Regions from separate parts of the Homo sapiens genome. Here region 2 is linked to region 1. Evidence: fine-mapped expression QTL. A gene starts in region 1. The other region holds a variant in brackets. All regions are shown on one strand. Distances are between the middles of the regions.

Region 1 (5,389 bases):
ATTTTAACATTGCTTAAGTTACTGCTATCCTGAGTTTACTTACACCAACTTAACATTATTTTTTTATTGTACTGTGAGTCAGGGACTATAGCAGACACTGAGAATTCAAAGATGAATTTAGAAATGGTCTCTTCCCTCACGGAGTTCTATCCAATAGGGATAGACAAATGCAACAGAGTGTGATAAATGCTTTAATGGGGCCAAAGCAGCAAGTCAATTTAGAGCGCATCAAAGGGTACCAAAGCAGCCTGGGAGAGAGGTGATCTGGAAAATCTCCCAGTAGGTGACCAAAAACTGAGTCCTAACTCTAATTAATTGAATTATAGACTGCTAAAGCTGCACAGTGTTAGAATCATCTAATTCAAACTCCTGATGTGGCACAGAGAGAATCTGATGTCCAGAGAGGCTGATGTATGCAGAGTGAGTATCAGAGTTGCAGCTAGGACCCAGATATGTAATACTGGGTTGCCTCTTTAAAAATGCACCTTTTTTGAAGGGAAATTTTTAGAACCTTTTCCTTCATCAGTTTAATAATGAAAGTAATTAATCATATTTGAATAAGATACGGAGAACAATATTTATATATATTGACTTTATGCTCAGTGGTGATGCCAATAACCCATCATCTCTTGGTTATAGATTTTCCATGAGCTGCTGATGAATTTTTTCAGACTCATCCACAGGGTAAACCTGCTTGTCTCCTGAGCTACTGCATGTACGTAATTACACTCAGAAGGACAAGTAGAGTTTGGCTGTGAACAAGAGCAAACTTTAAAAATAAATCTTAGTCCGATTAGCACCTCCTCTCATCAACCGACTGAGGCATCTAAGGGCTAAGGTAAAACCCAACATTGAAATATTTGTATTATTAGTAGTAGTGGTAGTATATAAAATGACCCAGGTATGCAATCTTCTTGGAGTTTTTGCTCCTAACATAGTCACTTGATTTGGGATGTTTAACGACTGTGATTTTGTAATGGGACAATATAAGAGCTCATTACATTAAAACATAAATACTTGGGAAGCTCATAGTTTCTGATAGCTTGCCATCTGTTTGGTTCTTACCGGCAATGGATTTATCCTGCTTAGTGCAGATGATGATATTGTGGGTAAAATCATGGATTATACAATGGATTTCTGAGGTCTTTAACTACTGTTATTAATTTTGCCAGCTTACAAATCAACATTTTCTAATATAAAATCAATTACATTTTATTTTTCAACTCTTACCCTAAGAAAGGTTGCTATGGGCACCACAGAACATCTGTTCTGGCGCCAACAGATTGCGTTAAAGTCACCCACAGTCTCTCCAAATTAAAAACCTCAAACTGAGTTCACTGGCTTTGTTACTGTACTCTCAGCAGGATGTTCTTTTGCCTTGCCCATCGTTCAGTTTAATCCTCTAGAAAGAAAATTTTTAGAGGTACATCGGACTAAATCATTTTCTTCTGAGTACACCATTTCCAAATGGCCGCCCAGGGTCCTAAATCCGGCGGCTGCGGAGAGGGACTAGAGGGTGTCCTCCTCTGCAGAGCCGTAGGACTCGAGCGCCTTCATCACTGGACGCTGGAGCCAGGAAGGAAACCCACACACTCAGGGACAGGTATAACCCCACAGGGGTGCACCAGTGAGGCCCCGATCGCAGCGGAGGACTCCATCCCTGAGCTTGTGAGGGCGTCCTGGGGAGGAAGCGAACACTTTCCCCGTTCAAGTCAGAGAGCAGGACTCACTGGGTGGCAGGTCAGAAGTTGAATTTTAACCCGACCTGCGCTTTGTCCCCGCGCCTTCCGCAGCCTGGGCGCCGCGGTGGCACCGAGCTGGGAGAGGACACGAGAGGCTGGCGCGGGAGAAGCCGAGAGTTGCTATCGACCGGGAGCTGCCGGCGGCGGGAGCAGACGCGACCCTCGCCGCTTTCGATCTCGAAGCCGCGGAGAGCCGATCTCGGCTGCTGGGGCTCGGCTCCCCGCGCTCTGCCTTGCCCTTTCGGCAGAGGGCAGCTCCCTGCCTGCTGCAGCCCCGCCACTGTGCGCCCGGCAGCCCAGGGGTGCGCCCAGCCCGCCCCCCGAGTGGCCGCCGGGACTCCAGCAGTTGGACCGACCCTCGCCCTCCGGCGCCTGGACAAACTTCCTTCCTCCCGGGCCCCTGCGCCAAGCAAGCTGACAGGCGGCTCCCTCGCCGGTCTCCTCTGGGCTCTGGCCGGGCGAGCTTGCTCTCTGCCCCTCTCCAACCCCGAGCCCCTGGCGCCTATAGCCGTCCCCGCGCAGCGGCTCCAACAAAGCCAGAGGACCGGAGACGACCCGGCGAGGGGCTGGGAGTGGCAGCGGGGACCCCAGAGCCAGAAGGAGGCGTCCCCTCGGCGGGGCGAGTACAGTGGGAAGGGGCAGCGGGAACGTAGCGGGGAGAGAAAGGGGAAGAAAGTGTTCTGTTCTCGGCGCGAACGCCTTCCTGGCTCGTCCTCGTTCCCCTTCTCCTCCTGCCTGAGCGCGTCCCATGTCCCGTTGGGAATTGGCAGGCGGGGAAGGGAGGAGGGGAGAGGGGACGCGGTGGCCTGGCGAGCGAGCCGCTCCCTTACCTCTGTCCAGGGTGAGCGGCTGGACCACTGTCAATGTCGCCATGTCTGCCGTGGGAGCCGAAGTGACGCTCGGCTTCAGCATCAGCAACCGCTCGTAGTGAGAAAAAAAGGAGGAGATTGGGGGCGGGGGTGGAGAGGGAAGACGGAAAGGAGGGGGAGGAGGGGGAAGGAAGGAAGGTGGTGGTGGTGGAGAAGAAAGCTTGGGTGGGTTGGTAGCCAGATGGAGACGCAACTGTTCCGCGGCGGCAGATCTTCAGTTGCGGTGCGGAGCTGAGCAGGTATCCGAGAGCGACTGCATCGCCGGGCTCTGGGAGGGAAGGCTCTGCCCTAGAACTTTGCTATTCCACCCCCAGGAGCGCTGGGTGGGTGTAGCTGGCGGGTTGCTTCCTTTCAACTTTCCACTCTAATAAAATGGTCAGAATATACGTGTGTGCATGCGGGTGCGTGTGTGTATAAGGGGAAGAGAGAGGATGGAAAGGGGATATGGGGAAGGGAGTGGGAGATGAGTTTTCTCAGATTAAGAGAAATTGCCAATCCAATAATCCCATCCCCTTTAGAGAGAAAATGCTTCCATTATCAGAAATGTTTGGGATGTAATTACATTTGCAGTTAATTTCTGTTGAAGTTTTTCGGAATGTTGACCTATAACGGCATATAAAGATAACTGACTAAAGGCCAGCGTTCCATCAGTAGATGTTCATTTAGGACCTGAGTATATTGCCTGGAGAAAAAAAAAAAAAAAGGCAAACCTCTTAAAAGTGCTTCAAAATAAAAAACGTGTAGGTAAGTTTCTATCGCTAAGTTTTTCTTTTTCAAGCCACTGTTAATACATTACCAATTCAGTAAATGTAGCTTAGAAACAAGTACAGTGTTCAGATTTTCTCCGAATTTTTTACATACCACATCCTGTAAACATGCCCCACTCCCCCTCACCCACCCAGCAACAAAAACTTTGCTCTTAATGTCCAAACTGATTTTGGTTGTCTATGACTACGTTTGAAAAATATGTACCTAGCACTTTTCATGTTGATTTCTAACCAGTGGTTCAGAGATGCCACTTATCGATTGATTAACATATATGCCAGGAATTGAGATAGAAGAGTTACATTGCCTTGTGCCACGCCTTGATTTAGGAGTTCAATTTAGTCTCCGACTTCCTGTAGCCTGTAATCTAGTGGGAGATGGTGTTATTAAAAACCTGACTTTAGAGTCAGTTGATCAGGATTAAATTACGAGAGCCTTCAAATACTGGCTGTGACCTCTTCGCCCCAATAAAAAGGCTACTTTCACTATCTTGTCATAGTAGGGATTCATTTCCTGACTACGAAATCAAGAAACATAAAGAAACCTTCTATAAGCTGAATAGGGGTGACTGTGGGTGCAGGATTGGAAATGACAAAGCTGCCTCCATCTTGTTTCCTGTGACAGAGCTGAATTGTTTGGGCTAACAATAAACTCTAAAAGGCAGATACTGTTTTATAGCAAAATATTTGCATATAATTGATGCCATTTTCTTCTGATTACAGATAGGATTTCTGAAGGTCTTTTTCATTTTATAGTCTACAATTGAATTTTAAAAAACAACATTTCACCAATGTGGGAAAGCCAAAGATGATTGGCCATATATAGACTTAACAGACCCTAAGAACAAACCTAAAATAGTAGTTCGATATGTTTATTTTTATTTAGTATTTAAGAAAGAATGCTGATCTTGACATTTGAGTCTTAGTCATGTACTCTTCGGAAGTCACACAATCTCTCACTGATCCTGTTTCCTCCTCTGTCATACAATGGAAATAATATCATTCAATGTCACAGAGATCTGTCATATGAGGAAACTAATTCTACCTTGCAATCTCACAGAGTTTTATGAGGGTCTAATGGAGTCATACATGTGACTGTGCTTTGAAAACAGTAAAGAATATACAAATTTATTTATACAAGCATACATCCCCTGGAACCGTGTGGTAAGCTCTGTGCTAGGTGCTAACCATGCAAAGATTAATGAGATGGCCCCCTTTCTGCCCAGTCTTGCTTGGGAGACAGTGAGCAAACCATAAGCTTCTGTGCAGTACTCTAAGCACTATTAAAAGGAAGTGCCCTCGGTGGCCAGAGGTTGCAAAAACAACTTTGGTTTTTTACCGTTATTCACATGCCCTGAATTAAGCAACAGAAAGAAGTTGAGATGAGCGCAATGATACCAGAGTGTGTTACAAGCTTTTGCACAAAGTTATTAAACCTCACTCGGTAACTGAGGATAAAAGAACATACAAATCCCTTGACTTCTAATGTAGTTATTTTACAACATCCTTTATTAGGGAATATGTATTTAAGCAGCTTGATTCATCAGCCCAAAAGTCATAAATTGTACCCATTCCAACACAAATCCCTGATTGTGGTGTCAGTGAAGGTAGAGTTTTCTTTGTCTTTTTGTTTCCTAATGCATCCTCAGGACTAAACATTTCATAGCATATTTCTGGACTTCTGCCTTGAGCTTCCTATTTGAAATTTGCTCTGTCATTCTTTCTCTGTGTTGACTCTGTAGGGTTGTTGTTGTTTTTAAATCAAGATTAAAAGAGAAATTAAAAGGAAGCATAAATCACCATAAATTCATCTGTTATTATTTTTAGTAGTGGAAAGTTCATTCCCTTTAGCTTATGTCTACACAGGTGTAGAAAATTAATAAAAATTCATTATCCATTAGAATTTGTTTTTATGAATAAATACTATCTCTCCAATAATATTTGTGAATTTCGTTTTGAGACATGCAGGGATATACTTGATCTAGTCACATGCCAGTTGCTTTGCTGTGTATTT
Region 2 (5,389 bases), 160 kb after region 1:
AATTGTCATTGGCATAATGCAATGAACTAAGCTATAGGTCTTATTCAGATTCACCAGTTTTTGCACTTATTTATTTATATTTTATGTGTAGATGTTATGCCTTTAAAAAATCAAGAATCTATGTCTGTCAATCTGTTTGACTCCCTGGATCTCTATTTCTGTTCTTATAGAGAAATGGAATTGTACTATCCATCCATATTATTTGGTAGCTCATTTTTTTTCACTTGTAAGAAGTGTTTTTTCCATTTTTCTAATTCATTATTTTTAATGTATACAGAATATTTAACATATTGGGTGAATATATAAATATTTCCTAATCCTTTCATATTGGCATTTAGATGGTTTCTCTTTATTTGCTTTTATAAATCGGCAGATAGACTTGCATCTTTGGGCTTGGCATTCCAAGGATATATTTTTTTTTCCTCTCTCTCTCTCTCTGTCTCTCTCTCTGTGTGTGTGTGTGTGTGTGTGTGTGTTTCTCTTTCCTTCCTTCTGGTAAATTCTTAGCAGATTTCAATGTATATTATCCAGCCATTCTCCAAAAAAATAATAAATATTGTAAGTTCCCACCATCTTTTTCCTTATGAAATATTTGAAGAATAAAGATAATAACTTAGAGGACACTCAACACTGAATTCTGTGAAATCTTAGTATTTTGTCACATTAGTTTCAGATCTTTTTATCATAAGCAGTAAAACATTACAGACACAATTGACGCTCCCTGTGTATCTCTCCCAATTACATGGTATTTACAGAAACAATCTTAGAATAATTTGTAAGGCTCGATGGAAAGGAAAAGTTCTTTTTGGACATTCTCAAATGATTGATTGTATTCCCTCTTTTTAATAGGAGCTCATATTCAACATCTCTCCATGGACATGAGCTAAGTGTTGAGCAGAATGAGTTAATGAATATGCTCTCTGCCTTCTGGGAGCCTCGACTGTAGAGGAGCATTTCATCAGAACATTGCAGCATGTTGTTTTGCATGAGTTATAAGCTGAAAGAGAAAGAAATGGATAGTTAAGATAAAGATGTAATATGAAAAAATGAAAAAATGTATAGTCCTAAAGTTCTCAGGTTTAGAAAACATTAATTTCAATCCTTGTCTATTGCTCTCCTGTCTTCCTCCCATTTCTCCTTAACCAGAGCAACATTAACACCAGGTCAGCTAGTTGGGGTCCTCCTCCCCTGCATCGTGCTGCTGCTGCTCTTTCTCTTTCTTCTCCTTCTCCTCATTTCCTTCTTTGTTCATCATTTCATTATTGTTATCATCAGGAATACATGCTTCTGTTTTTTCCAACAAATACTAGCTGTCATTAGGCAGAGTACACCCTCCATTCCACTCCCTCCTGGTTCTCTGGATAACTCTGAGGTTTCTTCAAAGTTACCCACTTGTGGCCCTGGGGGCATTCTGGATTGTAGGTCTGGTTTCTAGGAACCTGCTCTCATTTGGAGTTTGGTTCTTTGCCAGCTCATCATGACATTTCTGAATTGGTTGACTGGGGACCACTGTTCCTAAGAGAGTCCCTAAAGTGTTATGAAAAGGACTGACTGATGAAGCATGCTTTCCTTTAAAAACTCTACTTTTAAGTTTATGTTATTAGCACTGTATTTGAATTTAATATACTTATGCTTTGAAACCTAAATGTTTTTATCTTTTACTTTGAACCTTAATATTAATCTAATTATCATTTTACATTTTCTACCTTTTTAGATTAAACCAAATCCTATGTCCTTTTACTTAACTTATTGGTTTTTCCTGCATTTTCCTCTAGAATACAAATAAACAAGATAAAATGTATCCTTAACGTCTTTGAATTTACTGTCAGGCATGACTCACAACCGGAGAATCTTTAAGATCATTCATTCATGTCTTTTCACTGACAGTGGATTCAGTTCAGATAACAGGCATTGATTTCCTGAAAGCTTTTCTTTCTATTCTTTTTCCTGTGGGCTGCATTTCTCACCACTGGCAATTCACCTAGCTTTAATCCGAGATGATCTGGCAAGGCGGAAGATGTCTATGTTGTCCTTTCATGTCGAGATGGGACAATCTGGCTAGAGATGGTGTGATGGGGCCAGATTCTGAGTATACATACTCATGTAGGAAGGATCGGTGGGACTAAGGAATGCCTCTGTCTTTACATCAGGTTTCTCTGTTAAAATAATTATCTGTGCTATGGAGAGATGTGCTTTCCA[A/G]GTACTTTCACAAAAACAATATCCCTAGTGGTAAATTAACATAAGGCTATTATTCTGTTCCAAGTAAGCAATTACCCAATTTGGAGAGTTTCCTGGAACAGTCAGTTGATACTTCCCAAAGGCCAAGTATCTGTAATTCAGATGGGATATCACTGTGTGAATAAAGCAAAATGTTGCCCTCTTAAAAATACTTAAAGCCTGCTCTGTTTCTGTGCAACAGTAGTCTTTTGAGCTAGTCATTGTTTTTGCTGAGCACTGACTATTTACCTTATAAGAGTCTTTTTATTATTTGTCAGAAGAGAAAGTGTCAGGAGAGAATTTGTAAGGAGAATGTGTCAGGAGAGTATATTACATTTCACATTTATTCACACTTACAAGCTTTTATTTTAAAATAATCATTGAGCATTTGTTGTGTGCCATTAATGAACTAGCATGTGGTCCCTGCCTACAGAAAGCAGAGAGTCTGGGAGGACACAAAAGTACACAAAAAAACATGGATACTTAAAAGCGGACATGCACTTGTACCATTTTCTTTTTCTTCTTTTGTTATTATTATACTTTAAGTTCTGGGATACATGCACAGAAAATGCAGGCTTGTTACATAGGTATACATGTGCCATGTGGTTTGCTGCACCGATCAACCGGTCATCTACATTAGGTATTTCTCCTAACGCTATCCCTCCCCTTGCCCCCCACCCCCTGACAGGCCCCAGTGCGTGATGTTCCCCTCCCTGTGCCCATATGTTCTCATTGTTCTACTTCCACTTATGAGTGAGAACATGTGGTGTTTGGTTTTCTGTTCCTGTGTTAGTTGCTGAGAATGATGGTTTCCAGCTTCATCCATGTCCCTGCAAAGGACATGAACTCATCCTTTTTTATGGCTGCATGGTATTCCATGGTGTATATGTGCCACATTTTCTTTATCCAGTCTATCACTGATGGACATTTGGGTTGGTTCCAAGTCTTTTCTATTGTGAAAAGTGCTGCAGTGAACATATGTGTACATGTGTCTTTATGGTAGAAATTTAAAGTTGTTTAATTTAATTAAACTTTAAAAATCAGTTTCTCAGTTGCATTAGCCAAGTGTGGCTATTGAGCACTCATATGATGGCTACTGTGGTGGAGAAACTAAATTTTAAATTTTATTGTATTTTAGTTAATTTAAATTTAAATTTAGTTAGACACATGTGGCTAGTCGTTACCCTACTGAGCAGCAGAGACATAGAACATTTCCATTGTCACAGAAATTACTAGACAGAGCTGCTCTAGAGAAGGGAGTGGGAATGCTTTTCTTTTCAGGACCAGATTGAATATTTTTGGCTTTGCAGGCCAGACCAGTTCCATTGCAATCTCTCAGTTCTGCTGTTGTAGAGCAAGAACAGCCACAGAGAATACACATAAATCAGTTATATGTTCCAATAATGTTTTCTTTGCACAAACACATAGTGGACCAGTTTGACATGTGAGTTGTAGTTTGCTGACCCCGGCCCTAAAACTTTGGTTTCTTTTGTATTCGTTTTCCTTACTCTTTTCCTGTTTGCCTCTAAAATTTTCCTTTACAGTATTCCATATTTCTCAAACACCTCCCTGCTTCCATCTTTGTTATCACAACACACTTCATTGTTTCAAAACACTATAAATGATCACCCTCCACTTGTGTCCTGCTCCTGCCCATTCTACCTGTGACCATAGAGCTATGCCCTCCTAACTCACTTTAGCCAGTCTGCTCATCTGTTAATGTGTGTAATAATAGTAATTGTCTGATGTGGTTATTGAAAGGAGCTAATGAAATGTGTATAAAATTACGATCGTGGAAGGCATGAACATTCTCACATTAACACATTAACACAGAATAGTTGAGACTCAGAGCCCAACTAACACTAATACCAGTGTGTCACTCATTGTGTGTGGACCTCAGGTAGGAAACTTGTCTCTACCTCAGTTTCCTCATATGTAAAATGAGGATTATTGGATGTAGTAGGTCCTTGAATAACGGCATTTTGTTCAACTTTGTTTTGTTGTAATATTGAAGTGGAAAAAAAAAAGAACAATTCTTGGGCAGCGCCACTGTCTGTGTGTGTTGTTTGCATGTTCTACCCATGTATGGGTGGGATTATTCCGGGTACTCTGGTTTCCTTTCACATCCTAAAGATGTGCACATAAGGTGAATTGGCATATCTAAATGGTCCCAGTATGAGAGAGAGAGAGAGAGAGAGAGTGTGTGTGTGTGTGTGTGTGTGTGTGTGAGACTGTGCCCTGCGATAGGATGGTGTCCTGTCTGGGGCTGGTTCCTGCCCTGTCCCCTGAGTTGCTGAGATAGGCTCCAGCCGCCCACAACCCTGAGCTGAATAATTGGGTAAATAATGCTCTTAGTGGTTGTTATTTATCTTTTTTAAATGTATGGATAGCTCATATTTATTTCAGTGTTTACTATTAGAAGTGTTTTGGGTCCTTATTTAGAAATTTGATGATGTTTTTGTGACCAGAAATATGCCCTAGGAACTTAACACTTGTTTATATCAATTAGCCTGTGGTGAAATTAGTTTCCTTGTATGTCATTTTGCTTAAAGTCTCCATTTCCAAAATCCTATTGATGATGTTAAATGAAGACCTACTGTATTTACCTCACAGAGTCCTCATGAAGATTAAGTGAGTTAATTTGTGTTAAATGCTCATAGCATTGTCTTGATACAATTCTTTAAAATTTTTCCCTAAGGTTTATAGATGAAAAAAGAAAGTCTTAAACATGTTAATTTGTCTGCAGTCATTTAAATAACTAGCAAATGACATGGCTAAGATTCGAACTCTAGTCTGTTGGCCTCAAAGCTCAGGCCTTAACATTGTACTACATTCCTTTTCACATCCATCAGCTCCTTACCACATTCCCTAGTTTAGAATTAATCTCTTTCTTATTATGTGCTTTCATCATGCTTAGTTTGTACCTCTGTCAGGAAATTTGCCACATTTTGCATCTTATCATAGTTATTGCAAACCAGTCTTCGTTTTGAGAGTGGAGAACATGTTCCCAGTTATAATGTTTCCCCTTCCTTCACAGTCTCTGGTCCAATCAATAGAAAATTATTATGAAATGTATTAAATAGAAACACTTTTGAATAGAAAAATTATTATAGTTAATATTTGGGATTCTAATCTGTTGTAGTCTTCTTATGAGTTAATGAATTTTTTTATA

Direction of the effects. Alleles are on the strand shown, and positions count from the first base shown. SD is a standard deviation of normalised expression in the study named.
With allele G in place of A in region 2, the expression in neural progenitor cells of the gene that starts at base 2,866 in region 1 is lower (large effect, 0.79 SD a copy in Aygun 2021).

What was found. PIP is the estimated chance that this variant, and not a neighbour inherited with it, causes the effect.
Region 2: its variant is the best candidate, but not a certain one, in a credible set for the expression of LIN7A in neural progenitor cells (Aygun 2021, PIP 0.85).

The regions. Positions count from the first base shown.
Region 1 is chr12:80,935,069-80,940,457 of GRCh38, forward strand. It overlaps LIN7A (lin-7 cell polarity scaffold A), which reads right to left and starts at 2,866. Exons shown (of 6, transcript NM_004664.4): 1 at 2,573-2,866. The coding sequence starts at 2,654. It overlaps MIR618 (microRNA 618), which reads right to left and starts at 765; the gene lies at 668-765. RefSeq lists a silencer at 1,994-2,203.
Region 2 is chr12:81,093,736-81,099,124 of GRCh38, forward strand. The region is part of intron 1 of ACSS3 (acyl-CoA synthetase short chain family member 3); the gene reads left to right. It overlaps ACSS3-AS1 (ACSS3 antisense RNA 1), which reads right to left. Exons shown (of 5, transcript XR_007063390.1): 5 at 63-997. Among named protein-coding and RNA genes, the nearest start is that of ACSS3, 18 kb to the left of the region's middle. RefSeq lists an enhancer at 1,769-2,270. The variant A/G (reference allele first, on the strand shown) is at 2,200.